Linked DNA regions of Homo sapiens. The protein of the gene in region 1 interacts with the protein of each later gene in a pairwise test. Each region holds a gene or a part of one and is shown on either strand. Other genes may lie near its edges.

The links.
Region 2: the proteins of CAPN3 (region 1) and MYBPH interact in a two-hybrid assay, tested with the Homo sapiens proteins (one large-scale study listed by BioGRID and IntAct).

Annotation. Positions count from the first base shown.
Region 1 is NC_000015.10:42,404,219-42,408,024, forward strand, and holds part of CAPN3 (calpain-3), read left to right. Parts: intron 1-545; exon of another isoform or gene 546-737; intron 738-1,707; coding exon 1,708-1,725; intron 1,726-3,806. UniProt on the Homo sapiens protein: Calcium-regulated non-lysosomal thiol-protease. Proteolytically cleaves CTBP1 at 'His-409'. Mediates, with UTP25, the proteasome-independent degradation of p53/TP53.
Region 2 is NC_000001.11:203,172,944-203,177,457, reverse strand, and holds the start of MYBPH (myosin-binding protein H), read left to right. Parts: upstream 1-1,631; 5' UTR 1,632-1,691; coding exon of another isoform or gene 1,692-1,702; coding exon 1,703-1,907; intron 1,908-1,996; coding exon 1,997-2,131; intron 2,132-2,860; coding exon 2,861-3,028; intron 3,029-4,514. UniProt on the Homo sapiens protein: Binds to myosin; probably involved in interaction with thick myofilaments in the A-band.

The DNA.
Region 1 (3,806 bases):
CTCACTCAGTTTCCTACTCAGTAAAACGGGGATGATAATGTGCCTTGCAAGGCTTTTGTGAGGCTTCATCAATGAGGTGATGTATGTGAAGTGTCTGGCACAGCATGGGCACTCAAACAGAGGTGCTTTTTCACACTTTACACCTTACAAGGTACTTTTCACATGTGTCATCGCGATACTTGCAAGGTTGCTGAGAGGTAGATGGGGTTATAATCCCTGGTGTTCAAGAAAGGAAGCAGAGGCTCAATGGGGTTGAATGACTTCTCTGAGTTCACAGAGCTCAGTAAGTGGCAGGGTTGGAACTCACATTCAGACTCTCTGACTCCAGACTTAGGTTTTTCCGCACCTCCACGCTGAGGCCAGCCCCAGGCAGTGAGAAGCCCAAAGTCCGAAGCACAGAGTGCTGTGTGTTGGGCTCTGTGTGTTGAGGAGTCTTGTGACTGCCTTGGGGCTTTGGGCTGTAGTCAGCTGACAGTCCTTTGTGCTCTGTGGGGATGACGTAGGCCAATGGGAGGACAAATGCCCCTCTGAACTGTCTTCTGGGCAGTGACAGTCATGGTCATAATCCTGACCCTGAGCCAGTGCCAGGTCTCCAAGTGCCTTCTGAATGACCACAGGCGATTGGTTTTAGTGGTAGGTGTGTGGGGATCTGTTCTGGTCATCTGGATGCTGGTCATCGGTGTGCAGTATTGATCAGGACCTGCAAACCCAAAAGCTTATGGGAGCTGGCACGTCACGTGAGTAGAGCAGGCAGGTGCAGGGGTTTTGATGTCCCTGCACTGACACAGTTGTCTGCAGTTCTCAATTGACATTTCGCTCCAGTGTCGAGGGTCAACAGGAATGTTGGGGCGTGGGGCAATCTGGAAGACACAGGGAGCAGGGCCCTTGGCTCAGCTGATAGTTGCCGCAGGGATTACAGGCCCAGGGCAGCCTGCCACAGCTGGGGCTTTTACCAAAGAAAATCTCCCTATGTTAAATGCTTGCTCAAAAATTTTTAAAAAATATTCTGTAAGTCAAAATCCATTGTTAGGTCAGTTTGAGAGAGCCATGTTTTTGGTGTTTTAGTAACCAATTTCATTTTTTTATTATTTATTTATTTGTTTATTTTTGAGACGGAGTTTCACTCTTGTCACCCAGGCTGGAGTGCAATGGCATGATCTCAGCTCACTGCAACCTCCGCCTCCCGGGTTCAAGCAATTCTCCTGCCTCAGCCTCCTGAGTAGCTGAGATTACAGGTGCCCACCATCACGCCTGGATAATTTTTGTATTTTTTAGTCGAGATGGGGTTTCACCATGTTGGCCAGGATAGTCCTGAACTACTGACCTCAGATAATCCGCCCACCTCAGCCTCCCAAAGTGCTGGGATTACAGGCATGAGCCAGCACGCCCGGCCACCAATTTCATTTTTTAAAAAAGGAAGAAAGAAAACCTTAGCCAGAAGATCTTTTTCCTTGCCATATGCAGTAAGAGTAGATTATAAAAACAAAGTCAGAGCAGTCACTGGTGTCTGGGCATGGAGGAGAAAGAAGAATTCTCTTCTCCCTTCACCCTCCATGCCCCTTTTTGGCTCCATGTGATTCAGATTTCTGGACCCTGGAGCCCCACCCCAAGCTAAAGACCAGGATACAGGGAAGCCAAAAGCCACTGGCGGTTCTGAGAACTTACTTTTCACTTATTCTGCATTTACTGTTTCCTTTTCTTATGCAGAAAAAGAAAAAAACCAAGGTAGGTGTGTGGGTAGAGAGCATGAAGTGTGTGTACTCATGCATATGTATGTGCATGCATGTGAAGTGTGCATGTGTGAGCTCATATGCATCCATGCACCAGACTTGCCTCTTCCTCCCCCTCCTTCCTGAGCTTCTGCTGGGGCCGAGCGTGCAGTAATGACAACTACGATTTGCTGGGGGAAGGCTACGTGCCAAGCACTCTTTTAGGTGCTTTCCATGATTAATTCCTTCCTCACAACAGCCCTATGAGATTAGTACTATAACTATCCCCATTTTCAGAGGGAGAAAAGGTACAGACTTGACTAACTTGCCCAAGGCCACACAGCCAGAGAGGGGCAGAGCCAGTACTTAGAGCCAGGCAGTCTGGGTCCAGAGTCCGTGTCCTGAACCACAAGAGGCCATCATACACCATCAGATTTGGTGCTAGCATTTCTGGTGGTGCCTGGTGGTGATGGATCCATCACAGGGGTCCTCCAGGTACTGGTGCTGGCCCAGACCAGAGCTGACACTCCTCAGGCACTACCACATTCCAGGCACTGTGCTTGGGGTCAGTCCCTCTCTTTTTTTTCCCCCCCAATTATAACAGTATCTACAAAGTAGGTGCTGTTATTTTTCCCCTTTCACAGGTGAGATAGACTCAAAGAAGTGAACTTGCCCAAGGAACAGAACTAATGAGTGGGGAAAATGGAACTGGAAACCATGTCTGTTTACTCCAAAACCTGTGTTTCTTGCCCTCTTTCTCTGATGCCAGCCCCCTACACTTCAAGGCCTGTGTTGTCCAGACCCACACTCGGGCCTGCCAGTGTGTGCCTGGCAGGGATGCTCCATGGCCACACCATATCCATCCTACACATCCCCCCTCAGACTGTGACCTCCATTTGCTCTGGGATCCCCACAAGCTTCAGCTGCTTGAGCAAGACACTGCTTAGAAGGCAGAGCAAGCCAAGGCCTCTGGGGCCTGCTGGGAGCCAAAGCTGGGGAGCCGTTTCCACGGGTCTATCTGCTTGAGCTGTCCTAGATGAGCAGCATGGAAGGGCAGTGGTGCATGAGTCCAGGCGGGCTGCTTTTCTGCTCCGAGAGGCTCTGCCTGCCCAGTTGTTCTCTGCATTGCAGCCTCAATCCCCACAGCCTTGCCTTCCCCCGGCTTTCCCTACAGGTGCACCGCATCCACAGTGTTGGCACCATGCAGCAGCCGCTCTCCGTCCTTTTCATATCCTTGTCACTTGCACGAGCATGTCTTGAAAATATCCCTTGTTTGTGTAGCATCTTAAATGTTTTTGCAGTATGATTTTGCATTCAGTATCTCATTTGATCCCCACAAGAGCCCTATGAGGAGGGAAAGCAGATTTTACCATTAAAGGATGAGTAAACTGAGGCCAGAGAGGATATTTTTGGTTTTTTTTGAGACAGTCTCACTCTGTCACCCAGCCTGGAGTGCAGTGGCTTGATCTTGGCTCACTGCAAGCTCCACCTCCCATGTTCACACCATTTTCCTGCCTCAGCCTCCCAAGTAGCTGGGACTACAGGCACCCACCACCACACCCAGCTAATTTTTTTGTATCTTTAGTAGAGATGGGGTTTCACCCAGTTAGCCAGGATGGTCTTGATCTCCTGACCTTGTGATCTGCCTGCTTCGGCCTCCTAAAGTGCTGGGATTACAGGCGTGAGCCACCGTGCCCGGCCAGAGAGGATATTTCTTATATGAGGGGCAGGGCTGGGATTCCAGCCCAGTGTTCTGATGGCTCACCCACTGACCATGCCACTAATCCGTGTCCTTTTTCAATCTATACTTTGCAGGGTTGTAGAGGTTCCTTTGAGGTGCCTCAGTAGCTGCCATGGTGATGTGGGGTGCTGAGGGCAAAGAGCTCTGTTCTCATTAATCAGAGAAGCTTGTGTTTTTATATACACCATGTTTCTGCAGGAAATTTAATTTGAACAGTGTTTCCATCTGGAAAAAAAAAAGTCTACAAAATACTTGACAATCACTGCACTAGATCATGCTGCTTTTAGCATTCTTAGCATTTCACGTGCTGAGCTCTCAATACTCTACCATGAGGAGGGATGGAGTGGGTATGAAAA
Region 2 (4,514 bases), on another chromosome or scaffold:
CAGGAAAGGGAAGAGCATGCATGCTGCTGAGGGCCCTGAATAAATCACTTTTACTTATTTTTAAATTGTGAGCACATCTTACGTGCTAAAGAGTGCATAAATGTATTTGTTTAATTTGAAGAATAACTATGTAGTAAGAACCTGTGTAACCACCACCCAGGTCAGGAAAGGAAACCTCATTAGCACCCCTGCAGCCCTCACGATCACAGATATCCCTGTTCCTCCACCTAGAGGCAATCGCCATCCTAACTTTTGTACTGGCCTCATCTTCCTTTCTGGCCTTACCGCCTACGGATGTACCTTGAAGAAGGGAGCCTGGTGTTGACTGCATTTGGATTTAATGTAGATGAGACAGATGAGACGCAACATTTCTGTGTGCCTTGCTCTTCTGCTCATCACTGGGTCTGTGAGTAGCTGAAGTTGCTCATTTGACCCCATATTTTGCTTTACAGTTGCATAAACACTCCACAGTTATTTATCCATCCCACTGTTGAGGGACAGCTGTTTTCCCCCACATTTCAACAATTACAAATAACATTGCCATGAACCTTCTTCTCCATGTCTCCTGGGGCATGTGTGGGTGTTATATGAGCGGCACGGCTGGGTCACGGAGTAGGCACCTCATCCATTTTACTAGGCACTAGTAAAACTCTCACATTTTCCAGAGTGACTGCTCCAATACCAGCAATAAAAGTTCTTAATGTTCTCCCTCCTTCCTGACACATGGCATTTTCTGGCTTTCCAGTGATTCCCAGTCTTAACATTTTATCGAACAAATGAATCAATGACTAGAAATCTGGCCATATCTGCCTCCTTTGGCACACTGAGAAAGCCCATGCCCACAGCCTGCTTGGAAGAGTCTAGAAGCTTCAGAGTGCTCTCCTCCACTAGGGCATCTTCCAGATCTGCCTACAACTGCAACCCATCCCGAAGGGCGAGGGGTTCTCTGTAACAGGTGGAAAACTGAGGCCCACAGCAGGCATCAGGGGAGACGAGCTCCTTACCAGCCGCCCAACTGAGACAGGAGCCAGGAGACTTAGTGCCCCTTCCTGGGGTTCCAATGCTGGAGGACCATCCTCTGAGCAGCTCCACCCTCAGCATCTCAATTCCCTCCCTCTCTAGGGCCCTCAGCCTCATACAGCACAGGCGAGAGTCCCTGGGAACTGTGGGAGCCCAGGGAATGTGGACCCCAGAGGCAAAGCTGGGAGTGCTCACAAGGACGATTGTCCCAAACTGTCAGGGCCCCAGCACCCAGTCTGAGAAGCTCTGGGAACAAGTGGCCCCATAGACGCCAGACACACAGAGCCTGAGCTGGGCTCATTCTCCAGATAGAAGTTCTTCCTCCTATTGCCCTGACACCTGGCACGCGGCCTGCTCGATGTCCCATCTCACCCATCTGCGCCCTCCCCCAGCTGGGCACCAGCACCCTGGCTGTTGAAGGCCAGTCGGGGAGATGGATGAGGAAGTGACTCCTCAAGGGGCCCTTGTGGTTCCTCCCCCAGAGCTATTCCTGGCCTGGGCGCCTCTCCACCCTCCAGTCCTCCTGCTTGACCTGACCCCACAGCTGGGAATCGTTTGCTGGGGGTGGGGCAGCCCCTGACTATATAAGCCTGGACCTAGGTGTCCCAGGCACCCTAGAGGCCCAGGCCCCCCAACGGCTGACCCCTGCACACTCCACCCTGGCCCCCCAGCCAGTCCAGCAATGATGGAAAAAAACACCTCCGAGGGCCCTGCCTGCAGTCCAGAGGAGACCGCATCTGAATCTGCCAAGGTGCCCACAGCAGAGCCTCCCGGAGAAGTGGCAGTATCAGAGTCCACCAGAGAAGAGCAGGTGCCCAAGCCGCAGGCCCCTGCCCCACAGGCCCCTACAGCCTCCACAGCCACTAAGCCTGCACCCCCAAGTGAAGGTGACTGAAGGTGGGGCAGGGGGAGGAGGGAGGCAGGCATGTCAGGGGTGGAGGGGAGCTCTTGGCCATGAACCTCTTCATCTCCCCAGATGTCCCCAGTGCCCCACTGCTGCTGACCCTGGATGATGTGAGCAGCAGCTCTGTGACTGTGAGCTGGGAGCCCCCAGAGAGGCTGGGGAGGCTGGGCCTCCAGGGCTATGTGCTGGAGCTCTGCAGAGAGGGAGGTGAGTGCTGGGCTAAGTCTTGCATACACCCAGGGGAGGTTGTCATGGAGGGCTGCAGGGACAAGTGCACAGGCCCTGTGGTTGGTCAGTCTGGGAGAGATACAGAAGGAGGGGATGCGAGCAGTAGGCTCCTCAACCCACCCACCTGCCCTTTCTTGCTCCACCAGCAGGAGAGCAAGAAAGGGTAGGTGGGTGGGTTGAGGGGCTCCCTTGTCCTCAGCTCCAAGGAGCTTCTGAGTAAGGGAAGGGTAAGGGGACACTGGGTTCTCCTTTGGTGAGAAGGGAAGGAAGTGCTAAGTCTCAGAGGACCCCGAACTGTAGGAAGTGGAAAGGGAGGAGCTGGAGAGGGGAATGTTAGCGTAAGAGACAGTGAGGAGAAAGCGGGAATGGGGTGGGGGTGTGGGGGCCACATCCCTGCTGCCACTGTCCCCCTCCATGGCCCAAGTCCAGCCTGGCCTCTGCCTCTGCCCCTACCTTGCTGTGTGACTTTGCAAATGTGTCCAACCCTCTCTGGGCTTCAACAACCTCATCTCTAGCCACAATTTCAGGGCTCTAACATCAGGTGTCTTTGATGCCATTTGACAAGAAGTCAGGGAAGGCAAACAAGGGGAAAATGAGGCCCAGAGAGGGAGGCTGATTTCCCCAGATCACCAGCAGGAAAAGAAGCCCCATGGAGAGGGGCGCCTGTGGCCACATTGCAAAGACCTCACACTCTCTCCATCCCCTCAGCCTCGGAGTGGGTGCCTGTGAGTGCCCGGCCCATGATGGTGACCCAGCAGACTGTGCGGAACCTGGCTCTGGGAGACAAGTTCCTCCTGCGCGTGTCTGCAGTGAGTTCTGCAGGGGCTGGCCCGCCGGCCATGCTGGACCAGCCCATCCACATCCGAGAGAACATTGGTAAAGCCCATCCTGGCCTTCAGCTACCCAGCCCTTCCCAAACACCTTATCTAATGGAGAAACTGAGGCCAGCAGGTAGAGGGAACCAGGCAGTCATTTCCCCCGTCCCACGCTCACATGCACAAGCCACACGCTATCACCATCTTGCCTTAAGAAAGTTCCAGGTTCCTCAGCAGTAAGGGGCCTCTGGAGGTCTAAGAAGCCATTTCCCTGAGTGGTCCAGCCCCCACGCCTTGAGAAAGGGGCTCAGAAACAAAAGGTCAAGTTCCCTGGGTCACCTGCTCAATGCTAAGAGTCCATCTGTTCTATCTCCCATCTAATCTCAATCTCTCCAGTGGCCATAAATGCTCATTTTCTGCCCATTTCCTGTGGCCTGGGTTCCAGATTCTCTCAAAGGTCTTGAAACAGAGAGAAGGCGCTGCTTGCCCCTTGTTCCACCATGGCCCTAGTGGAAAGAAAAAGAAGGTCTGCAAAAGGCCCATGAAGACTTCTCCATTGCAGAGGGCATACCTCACTGGGGCCCCGCAGGCCAGCTGCCATCCCCATTGCTAATATTTCTATTTGCAAGGTGCATTAGCCTCAATCCTCCCCTCGCTCCCCTCCCGGAGCTGATCGGGTTTCAGTCTGTTAATGACAGTGAGTCATTTGGTCTGATCTGAGGTCTCTGGGGACAGCACAGTCCCCCAGGGTGAGGAGAGACACAGGCAGGCAGGTGGCCTGAAGCCTTCTCCACCTTCCTTCTTGCTCCTCCACTAGGGGATGGATGATTTCTGGTAGCTCTAGACAAGGCCTCCAGAAGGAGAGGGGATCCACAGGAGGGGTCAAGTCTGGATTCGAAAGGAAATGCTCAGCTCTGAGGCCTGAGAGACATGGGAACCATGGGGTTAGGGAGCTTAGATTCATAGATTATCAAGGCCCAAGGAGATCCCAAGGAGCCCAGGGCATCCCTTGAGGTCACCCAGCCTTTTATTGGCAGTCCCAGAGTCTGATGCCTACACAGGACCACTCATGTCCCACTGCACTGCAGAGCATCTTCTCTGGTGGCACCCAAAACCCAAGCCTCCCAACCCTAATTCCCAGCCTTTGGCTCTAGGTGAGATGTGGCCCCACCAGGCAGCTGCATTATGGCTGTGTCGACCCTAGTCCTGGAGGTGCCAGGAAGGCTTCTTGGTTGGGACGGTGCTGGGCCTTCCCCAGGGAACCAGGGAGCTCAGACTCTGAGAGGCCCCTGAGGCCCAGCATTGATGGACCCAGCCAGACTCAGCACCCACTTCTCCATTCAAATTCCTCTGGCAGGAGAGAAGGGGATTTCCTGGAGAGAAGAGGGAGAGGAGGCTGTGAACAAGTGGGGAACAGCCAGGCTTATCACAGGGCAGAGTGGGGGCCCTGTCCAGGATCCTTGGCTGCTCAGCTGTCTCTCCTTGGCCACCTGGAGCTGCCAAGCATTCTTGACCCCCTGCAGCTGTCCCTAGAGCATTCCATGCCT